Regions from separate parts of the Homo sapiens genome. Here region 1 is linked to region 2. Evidence: fine-mapped expression QTL. A gene starts in region 2. The other region holds a variant in brackets. All regions are shown on one strand. Distances are between the middles of the regions.

What was found. PIP is the estimated chance that this variant, and not a neighbour inherited with it, causes the effect.
Region 1: its variant is the best candidate, but not a certain one, in a credible set for the expression of TFEB in whole blood (INTERVAL, PIP 0.51).

Annotation. Positions count from the first base shown.
Region 1 is chr6:41,709,945-41,715,305 of GRCh38, forward strand. All of the region lies in intron 1 of TFEB (transcription factor EB), which reads right to left. Among named protein-coding and RNA genes, the nearest start is that of MIR10398, 21 kb to the right of the region's middle. RefSeq lists enhancers at 2,859-3,584, 3,585-4,308. The variant T/C (reference allele first, on the strand shown) is at 2,984.
Region 2 is chr6:41,732,515-41,737,875 of GRCh38, forward strand. It overlaps TFEB (transcription factor EB), which reads right to left and starts at 3,094. Exons shown (of 9, transcript NM_001271944.2): 1 at 2,836-3,094. It overlaps PGC (progastricsin), which reads right to left. Exons shown (of 9, transcript NM_002630.4): 8 at 5,216-5,314; 9 at 4,197-4,490. The coding sequence ends at 4,338. It overlaps MIR10398 (microRNA 10398), which reads right to left and starts at 1,096; the gene lies at 1,040-1,096. RefSeq lists enhancers at 193-272, 290-986, 343-392, 883-992 and silencers at 1,643-2,082, 2,213-2,742, 2,783-3,252.

The DNA.
Region 1 (5,361 bases), 23 kb before region 2:
CCCCCACTAATTTGTTTATTTTTTGTAGAGATGGGGGTCTCATTATGTTGCCCAGGCTAGTCTTGAACTCCTGGCCTCAAGCGATTCTCCTGCCTCAGCCTCCCAAAGTGCTGATCTTTCCACTAAATTTATAAACGAGAAAATAAGATTCCATCACTCCCTAATTTATCTATTTTGGAAATCTACATTTTCATTAAACAGGTTGACAAATATAAAGTAAGATCCTTCTAATGGGCCTTAGCCACATAACTGGGGCAGAGTCATTCCCTGAAGGATGTATAGAGTTACATCAGAATAGAGGATATCCTCCTGGCTCAGTTGCCTTCATACCAGCTCCCACCATGTGGTCATGCCATGCCAGTACCCATCTCTCAGCAAGTCCAACTCCACCCAACTCCTATTCCAGAGAAGGTGGGTCAGGGACCAGATAAAGGAAGGGGAAGCCAGGTAAAAGCACAGCAGGGACAACAGGCCAGGATGGCCAAGGAGAAGAAGCCAAGAACAGAATGCAGGGATTTGGGACAGGGGTAACTACGGATCAGAAAGAAGAGGCTGAAGAGCAGAGAGGATTTATTGTCTTTGGAGAAATGAAGAAAGAAAATATTCCTCAGAGAACAAGGGAGCAAAAACAAAATGAAACAGATGGAGCAACATAGAAAGACCATTTTTTTCCTGCTCCATCACCCCCAATTGCTCTCCACTACCTACCAGATAAAGTCCAAGCGCTCTAGTTGGGCCTCCAAAGCATGCAGGATCCCTCTCCCTAAACAAACACTGGGTGCAGCCAAGGGGACCTCCTTGCTCTCTCACGCCAACCCAATCTGGGCCCCCAGACCCTCCCCCAGTTCCTCTCCCACAGATTATCCAACTTCTCCTCCTCTCTGGAAGCCCTGCTCCAGGGTCTCCTCCTCCTCCCGACAGCACACCCTGACTTCACCCACCTCTAATCACCATTTGGGCACAATTACTTACTCTGTTCCAAGCCTGGTTCTGTGTCTGAAACAGGAATACAAGGATGAATAAGACAGCCCTTGCCCTATGGTTTTTACAATCCAGCTTGGAAAAAACATCATCACCTGATAGCATATATTGTATTTCTTCTACCACTATGGATAATACTAAAACTTGTATTGAGTTGTAAAACCATCTATCAAGGATGGCTTCTAAAGCCGTGATAGAGCCAGTGCCAGGCCCTTGGCTTTATCATGTATTAATTCATTTGGCCTTCCCAATAACACTAGGAAGTAGGAAATACTACTGTACTCATTTTACAAATGAGAAACAGGTACAAAGAAGTCACCTCTCTGGTTTTCTCAGCTGCAGTGTGAACTCCTTGAGGGCTGTCCCTTGGTTTCCTCCTCTCCCACACAGGCTCCAGGTAGAGGACACTCGGACATGGCCCTCTGGGCTCAACGTCCCCACCGCTGTGGCCTTAGGTGAAGGTGTGCTGACTGGTGGGTGGGAATGGTATACATGCAGGAAAATGAGCGCCAGCAGAATGGAGGAGACTGGCCTCCCAGGTGGGGTATGAAAGGACACAGTCTCGGTGTCCCCTTCCAGCATCTCTCTTCCCTGCCTGTCCCCAAGGTCCAGCCCTGGCATTTCACAATCCTGCAGTCACTGCAGAATTCCCTGTCCCTTTGCTAAGAGCGCTGAGGTGGTGTAGAAGGAGGGAGCCAGGCTTCATGCCCAAGACAGACAGGGGAACAAAAGGGTGGGCTGTTGGAGAAGGGAGGAGCCCTTCAGCTCCCCCAAGCCCCAGGGGGTCAAGCCTCTCTGAGTGAATAAGCCTAGCCTGGAAAGTAAAACACAGGGCAGGCCCCAAAAGGGTCATGTCTGGGCACCCTCACCTTGGCAGGGGGGTGGGGGAACATGGGCCTGCGGCAGAGGCAGGGCCCTCATGGCACCGAGCTGGGCTGCCCCCTTGGCAGGCTCACCCAGCTCAGAGGCCTCTTCAGGCTGGGAAAGCTGAGGAGGTGGATGGCTCAGACCCAACTTAGAATAGAACCATCATGAGGCATTGAGTGGGGTTCTGGGTTGGTGAAGGGGGCTTCGCACAGCCTATAGAGCTCAGCAGTGGGGGTCCAGTCCCCAGCCCCGGCCATACCTCACCTCAATATTTCTATCCCCTCCTAGAAGGCACAGTGGATGTACAGTGCAGGTAGAGCAGGGAAACTGAGGCACAGAGCCTGTCCTCCAGCTCTGGAAACCTGCTCTGCCTGTCTGGCCACCAGCACCATCCTTGAAAATGAACCCCCATGTTTCTCACAAGCACACAGGACTCCAAATCCTACCATTCCAGGGTCCTACAGGACTCCAGATCCTACCGTCTCAGGGTCCTCTTCTACCCTGGGGACATATATTTTCGAGAAAGAGGCTCCCCAAAGTGGGGCTGTGGAAAGAGGGCACCGTGCCTTTTCCTGAGTCCTGGTCTGGGATTGGGTGACGAGACCAGTAAGGGGCTCAGCCACAGCTCTGGGCTCCAACCCCGGCTCTGCTTCTCACTAGCCATGAGGCCTTGGGCAAGTTACTGAAGCCTCTCAGGGCCTCAGTTTCCTCCTCGGAGAACAGGACTAAGTCTCCCTGCTCTTGTCTCTCATAGTTGATAGTATCCAAAAGGTCCTGGTACCCCACCCAGGACTCATACCCTTAATCACTAGTCCTCCCTCTTCCTCCTCACCAGGGGCCCAAGGGCTCAAGCACTGGCAGGGGCTGCTGAGGAGCTGACGGAGCCACTGCTGTTGATAGAGCCGGTGCCAGGCCCTGGGCAGGCACGGGGCCCAGGCACACAATGGGGCTGTGTGTGCACCCAGCGTTACTCTGGAGTGGAGCTGGGCAGGCAGGCTGGCATCTGGGGTCAGGCCAAGAATTCATGTCTCTGGAGAAAGCCTCCCCACCCCCTCCCAGGCAGCACAGCTCTTTCCAGGGGTGAGCAAGCACCACCCACTCCCCCACCCGGCCTAGGAAGGGAATGGGAACTTGC[T/C]CTGGTGGCAGGTACTGGGAAATGGGGACTCCTGAGTCTAGCCACTGGCTGGGCTGCTCGCTTGCGAGGCATTTTGGACCTATTACGTAATCTGGGGTTGCAGCCTCCTCTTTGGCCAGAGGGAGGGTGAAGTCTGCGGGGGCCAGGAGAAGGAGCAAGAGAAGTCTGGCTGCGACCCCCACCCCATACAGAGGGCCTCAGTCCTCCCTCCCCAGCTTACCAGGGCCCTGGGCTCAGCACAGGTTTTCTGAGGCACCCAGGACTCCTGGCCACCCAGCCTGCACCAGGGTGCTGGGGTACCCCAGGAGAGGAGCTGGCTCACTCCCCAGGAGAATGAGTCACCAGCTGGCTGCAGCCAGGATGGCGAGGCGGGTGGTGGGCAGGTGGAGCTTGTCCTCTCCTGTCCCTGGCAGGTCTTCTCAAGCTGGAAAGCCACTCAGCTGGTATCAGTGCTGACCACAGCATCCCAGCCCAGGCCTCACTGGGCCACTTCTTCTGGTGCAGGGACCGTCTGGCCGCAGGATTCAGAGAGACTTGATCCCCTCCGGTCCCTACGCTGACTCACTCTTATAGCTGTAGGCATGGGCAGCCTACTCCTCTAATTGTCTCTGAGAGGGTGTCAGGCTGCAGGGAAGGGCAGCCACCTACCCCCAGGGAGAAACGCGGTCTGAGGCGAGGAAGGAGGGGAGAACTCAGGCACCTGGTGGGCAGCAGGGAAAGGCAGACAGCCAGGCCACCTTACTCCTCAGGCTGTGGCCAAAACAGGGAGGGCCCCTTTGCATGAATCATTTTCTATTCTCCCCAGAGCCAGGAGGCACCCAGGAACAGGAGCTAACTGGCCCTGCTCCCTGGCTGGCTAGACATGTGGCACCCTCCCTCACGCCCAGTCATAACGACACAGATAGGCGTCCTGATGCATGCCACCCACACTCCCTGAAGGTCATACACAAAGTCACTGTGGCAGCCCAGCCCAGTGGACACAGTTGGATGGCCACCCATCCCCTGACACCCACAGGAACCCCCCAGCCTGAGCTAGAGTGGGCCACACCACATCCTGTAGGCCCCAAACAGTGCTGAGTCTGGGAGCACCTCAGCTCCGAGGGCTCCTTCCTGGTCAGAGGGCAAGGACCTTTCCCAGCCAAGACCACTGCACTGAGTCCTGTGTGTGCGTGTGTGTGTGCACGTGTGTGTGTGTGTGCGTGTGCATGTGTGCGTGTGTGTGCATGTGCATGCGTGTGCATGTGTGCGTGTGTGTGCATGTGCATGCATGTGCGTGCATGTGCGTGCGTGTCTGTGTGTGTGCGTGTGTGTATGCATGTGCTTCTACCACCCCTACTCTGAGAAATCACTCCCATGCCCTGAGAAAAGAGACGGTGAGAACCAAAGGGCCTTCGGAACCTGAGCCCATCGTGTTTGTTTTCCAGATGAACAAACTGTAACTCACATTGGGGAAGTGTCTTTGTTCTAGATTATGAATAAGGCTGAATCTGGAACCCAGGCTGGGGTAGCTTATGGCTAGTCAGACAAAGCAGAGGATGGGGAAGAGGGAGCAGGGGCGAGAAGGAAGAAAAGGGAGGCGAGGGAAAATTCATCACCAGATCAGAGGTGCGGCCTTGATGGTATCATTCCATTCATTCATTTCAAATATTTCTTGAGCACTTACTACATGCCAGCACTCTGGCAGGGCCTTTCTGCCCATATCACCCCTCCCTCCTGTGAGACACTGCTTCTGAGACGGACTATTGTCTTCAGGGGACCCCCATCCCGAGGGTGCGGGGAGACTGGGGCAGCGCTGGAAGCTCTACCCTTGAGTGGCGGCCCGGCCCCAGAGAGGCCCTGGAGGCAGCCTCCTCTGCCCTCCACACCCCAAGGGACTCCAGCCCTCAGGGAATCCAGTGACCACAGCACTCCAGACCCTGATATACAGGTTGGCACTCCTCCGGGAGTCCATGCCAAGTCAGAGGGCACAAAATGTCAGACGACAAGGAGCCTGGGAGTCACCTACCAGAAAGTCCCAGGTTGATGTTAGCAGCAGCACTCCCATTTTCAGACAAAGTCGGCCTGGACCCTTGATATGTAAAACATGAGGATGAAGCCGCTCCATGGAGCACCAGGAGTCAGTGTGAGGAGCAGGAGAGCAGCATGGGGAGTGGGAGGACCACCCCACCTGGCCTCCAACCAGGGCCTCCCCCACGCTCCCAGATAGTACCCAAGGCACCTTCTGGGACTGTGACGAAGAATCTGAAAACCACAGTTTTCTCTGGCCTCTCCATGTTGCGGAAGTCTGGAGGAAGCAGGGAGTATGTGCGGACCACACAGCTTAGGGAGAGCTAGGACCACAGCCCTGGCCCTCCCAACTTCCAGGCCAAGCTGTTTCC
Region 2 (5,361 bases):
TATTGTTACACTCTCATAGACACACATGCACAGTTCATCTCTACCCACATTCCTAGACACTTTAACCACACACACAAACTCACAACCATTACATAAACCCCACACCAACCCAGAAAGCAACATCATGTACTCACCATGTACCAGGCACTGCCGCACCCTTAGTCCTCACAACAGCCTGTGAGGTGGGTGTGTTTTCATCTCCCTCCTCTCAGATGAGGATCCACACTGTACATGCATATATGTTCACTGCGTCCTGGGACGTGAACATTTCTGGCAGCTCTGGGAACCCTGAACTCCCACCCTCCGATCAGAGGAGGCCAACCCAATTTCCATGGTCATCTCCAGGGCAGCCCCAAGCCAGGCCCCAAGTGCTGACTGCCCTCCATCCCCAGGACAAAGGCCCAACCTGGTTTTCATGACAGCTGTGGTTGGGGAAACCCCTGTTGCCTGCAGAAACCGAGTTGACTTTGAAAAGGAAGAGACAGAACCCAGGGGGTGGCTGGGCTACTCCCTGTGGGGGCAGGTGCTAAGTAACTCTATTAACTCTGGCTAATGATGCAATTACAGTCATAAACAGAGCCCCAGGAGGGCTCAGGGCCAAGAGCTAGACCCTCAAAGGGCAGCCAGACTTGAGGGGTGGGAGTCCCCTTCCACCTACTTCTCAGCTTTCCAGAAACAGGCTGAGGAGGCCTGTGACAGCGCACGTGGGACCCTGGAAGGGCTCCTGCCTGCCCTGGCCCACTCCCTGCCCACCTCTGACTGTGAGTCACCAGGCCATTAGCCCGTAAAAGCCCAGTTGGCTCTCCCTAGATTCAGTGCCCACCTAGGGTGTCCCCTGCCCTATCCCCTGAACTCCTTCCAGGGCACCCGGAACCAAGATACCTGGGTCCCCATTTGGCTCCGTCTCCCAGAGCTGAGTTGAGGACAAAATAACCCTGCAGCTGTAACAAGCCTTGTAAATGGTAAGCACCATTGGCTTCCCTCGGGGAGAAGCAGAGCATGGAGTCACCCAAACAGCTCTGCCCTTCATTTACACCCTCTGGCTCCCAGCTCTCCGGGCCCCGCGGCCAGGAGGCAGACGGAGAGAAGGGAGCCAGGCGAGTTGCTCGTGGTCCTGGGGCTGGGGTCACCGGCATGGTGAAAGCATACCGTCAGGTTAGCAGGCAGGGACCTCAAGGCAGCTGACCCTTCCCTTCCTCTGCCTCTGCCTCTCCTGGCCGGCCAGGAACTATTGCTGGCTGTCCCTCCCCGGACAGTGAGCTCCCTGAGGGGAGGGCCTGAGGACTGTCTCCCAGTCGTGGCACCAAGAACTGCGTTCTAACCGAGCGCATCCGCATCTGTCCACCCAGAAGGAAACCAGAGACCAGCCTCCAACCTCATCCCCAGCTGCCCAACAGTGCCAGGTCTGGGCCAATGGAATCTCGGCCAGGGCGGGTGCAGGGGCCTGAGGCCACACCCCAGAGGTGTCACTGGGGGCCTGCATCCGTCTTGTCCCTTTCCCTGAGGGATGAAGCAGCCCCTCACTCGGGATGGGGGGAGGGCAGAGGATGGGAGCTGGGCAGTAATTAACCTGCACTTCCCCAGCGAGCTCTAAGCCAAAAACTGCGCTCAAGTTGAGTGCAGAAGCTCCGCGCTGAACCGTCCCCAGAACAGACAGGCGAGAGAACGACGGCTGGAGCTGAGGGGGGTTCGGGGGAAGGCGCAGCGGCCAGGGGCTGGCGGAGAGCGGAGGGCGGGGGCCTGGGCCCAGCGGGGTTCGCGCAGACAAGCCCCGCCCCGGGCTCCCTCCCTTCCTCACCCGGGGCGCGGGGCTGGGGCGCGCCAGGCGGCTGCGGCGCGAACCTGCTCGCGCAGCCCGGAGCAGCTCGGGGCAGCCGTGCGTGAAGCCGGAACCCCGCGCGGGGAGGGGGCCGAGCTGGCATCTGCCCGCTCCCTTCCAGGAGGCGAGCGGACGCGCTGGGCCAGAGCTGGTCGGGACAGCCCAGGGGTGGGCGGCACGGACTCGGGGGATCGGGGGGAAGGGGGCGTGTTTTCCGGGATTCGGGACCGAGACGGGGGGAGGGGGAAACTCGGGGGGCGGGCAGGCAGCTGGGAACCCGGGGGGAGGCAGACAACGGGGCGCACGGAGGGAGCGCTCCGGGGTTGGTGTTCCCCAGGGTCATAGAATAACCCACGGGGAGAAAGAGACTGCCCAGGGACTCGAGGGGACGGGGCCAGGGGCGGCTTCTTCAAGAGACCGAGCTGGAGGAAGGGACGGGAAGGGAGGGAGAGATGGTACTTCCACCCGCCCCCCCATCAGCCCAGCCCCCGGGGCGTGGCGCCGCTCTGGCCCTCCCACTCCCCCCGCTGGCCTGGCCAGACTCAGCCCCCGCACACCTCCCCTACCTCCGACCCCCTCTCAGGCATCGCCGGCCCCAGCCGTGTCCGGTGGAGGGGGAGTGGGCGCGGGGCCCGCGCGTCCCTCAAACTTCTTGCGAGTTCACCATCACGCCTCCCGCCCCTTCGACTCCCAGCTCCGGGCCGGGAAGGCCCATGCCCGCCCGGCCCCTCCCGCCCGGTTACATAAGGTCGCGGAGAAGCCGCCCCCGGCCCGCGCCTGAAGGGAGGGGCCGAGGGGGCTCCCGGCTCGGCGGGCAGCGCCGCTCGGGCCACGCGCTGGGCGCCCGGGGGCGGACGGACTGCGGGTGGGTGGCGGCGCGCACGGTCCTGCTTCCCTCTCCTGCCGGCATCCCCCACCCTCCCACCTGTCTCCGGGACCCACGGGATAGGGGCCAGGGAGCCTGGGTCGGGGGTCCCGGGCCCTCCTCGTGCCTCTCGCTCCCCGGTCCCGCTCACCTCGCTCTGAAGGTCAATCTGTCCGCCGCCCGCGCCCCGCGGCTCCGGCAACTTGTCGCAAGTTCGGGTGCCTGGCCCGCAAGCTGTGCCCGCCACCTGCTCCCGGCCTGCTCCGGCCCCGTGCCACCAGGGAGGCCCGCCCCGTCCGCCCTTCCCGCCGCCGTCGGCGCCGCGGCCGCTCCCTGCGTCCCGCCCGGGCCGCCGCCTCCGCTGTCACCGAGCCCCGCGCCCGGCGCCCGGGCTCCGGCTGTCACTCCACGCACACTTCCCTCCGCGCCCGGCAGAGGGCAGCACCCGCCCCGCCTCCCAGCCGCTCTGCCTCGGCGCCCACTGGGAAGCGTAGTTCTCGCTGCAGTCCCGCTAGGCACGCCGGGATTTGTAGTCCCGCTCAGCGGACTAAGGCTTACAGGGAAAGAGGCTCTTGACTTGGAACCTCTGATCCACTTCTACCTCTTTGCAAGTTTTCTTTCTCCTCTCAGTAAAGTCCCAAACCAGGGCTCACTAAGATACATTCTGTAGCCTGTCCGACCCCCTAAAAGGAACCTGCAGCCTGCTGTCCTTCGGCAGTCTAAGAAAGAGAGGGTCCCAGATGGTGTGCTGTTGCCATAGAAACTCCACCTGTGGCAAATTCCAGCTTCTCTTCAGGAGTAGGGTGCAGGACCTGGATCTTGCACTTTTATCCCTGCCCCGATCATAAGGGGCAAGGCCAGGGTGAGCCTGGCGAAGTACAGGGTAAAATATGACAGTAGAAGGCAGCCTGCCCCCATTATGGGTTCTACATTCACGCCCCACTCACCAGCCTGAGCTTGCTGTCATGTTGCTGGACAGAAATTGTCTGAGCTCCTTTCATGTCACCTTCCCTTGTTGGAAGTTCACAGGGTGCGGAGGCATCATTCTCTACTTTCTCCTCTTCCCCGCCCCTTTTTCCCTGTCTCCTCCCCCAGCCCCTCCCCTGCTTTTCTTCTCCTTCCCCTCCTCCTTTTCTTCCTCTCTCTCCTCCTTCCCCACATACAATGTTGCTCCTGGTTTCTGGATCTTTTGCTAAGAGGCTCCTGAGGAGGACAGGGATGAAGTCCAAAGGGACAAGATCCCTTGCTGAGTTGGTTCCAGCAAATAGGCTCGATTTCTCTGTGACTCAAGTAGGAACACTCTCCCCCGGCCCGCCACCCACCCACCCATGATGGCGCTACCACTGTCTTCCCTTTCCAGGGGAAAAGTATGAACTTTAAGCTCTGAGGGTTACAGAGCCCATCCCAAGCCATGCCTTAGGTCCCATTTCTCTTAGAATCACAGTGACCCACCAGGAAACCTTGTAGCCACTCAGGGAAAACTCCCTTCCAAAAACAACAGGATGACCAACATAAAGAAGAACTATTTATTATTAGAGAAAGTCCAGAGTCCAGAAAAAGAAGGCTGAATCCAGAGTGGAAAGACAGATACAATGCCCTAGGAGGGTGCAGGGTCAAGAGGAAGAGGGGAGCCCACGTGTCGAGGCAGCAAGTCTAGGCGGCAGTGGCAAAGCCTACTCTGTTGTTGCCCAAGTCGTAGACGGAATAGTAGGACCTGAGGAAGACATCCCCGAGGATCCACAGGGGCTGGCCGTTCTGGGAGGACAGGTAGGTGGGCTCGACTCCCACGGTGCAGTAGCCGTTGTTCTGCTCAACAAAGAAAGGCAGCACTCATTCATTTGTCCACACATGAGCTGGGCCCTGCTCAGCTCTGAGCCCTGGGCTGGGAGCACAAGTGCAGAGCTGAGGGAGCCAGGGTCTCTGCCTTGAGGGCTCATAGGCCAACTGAGCCACCAGAGCAGAGCGGGTGGGAGGATTTCTGGAACAGGTACATTCAGGCTGCCGTGGTCCTCAGCAGGGTCTCCTCTCCCCATGATGGGAAACTTCTCTTCCCACAGACCTCCCTCCTGCTCCCAATTTGGAGCAGATCAGCCTGGTGGTTAAACCTTGGAGCCAAACCAACTTGAATTCAAACCTTAGCTGTGTCGCCTTGAGTCAGTTACTCAACCTCTCTGAACCTCCAAGTTTTCATTTGTAAAACAGAAATGAGTATCTCCCTCATTAAATACTGTGACAATTAAATGGGATCATGAAGCAAAGTGCTTTGCACAGTGGTCTGCCCTAGTAAGTGCTCAACAAAGAGCCCAGTGCCTCTCCCCACTAATTAATAATAATTGATCATAGATGACAATCTTCTATTTCATAGCCTTGTTCCAGAGAAGGGGGTTTAGAATCAATGAGTGGGGAAGATAAATGAGTACAAGCGTGGAGTCGGAAAATGGCACAAGGCAGGAGACCCAGCATTTCTGGCTCCCCAGCCCTTCCTCCCAACCCCAATCATGGTGGCTCAGCCTGCAGGGACCAGGACTTACACTGAGGATATAGGAGGAAGGTGGCAGAGGGAACTCCACACCATTGATGATGAAGGTCAAGCTGGGCAGATTCTGAATGCTGTTACAGTTCACGAGAAACTGCAAGAGGAATAGGTCCCTGGTTAACTCATCCTCCCCCTGATAGC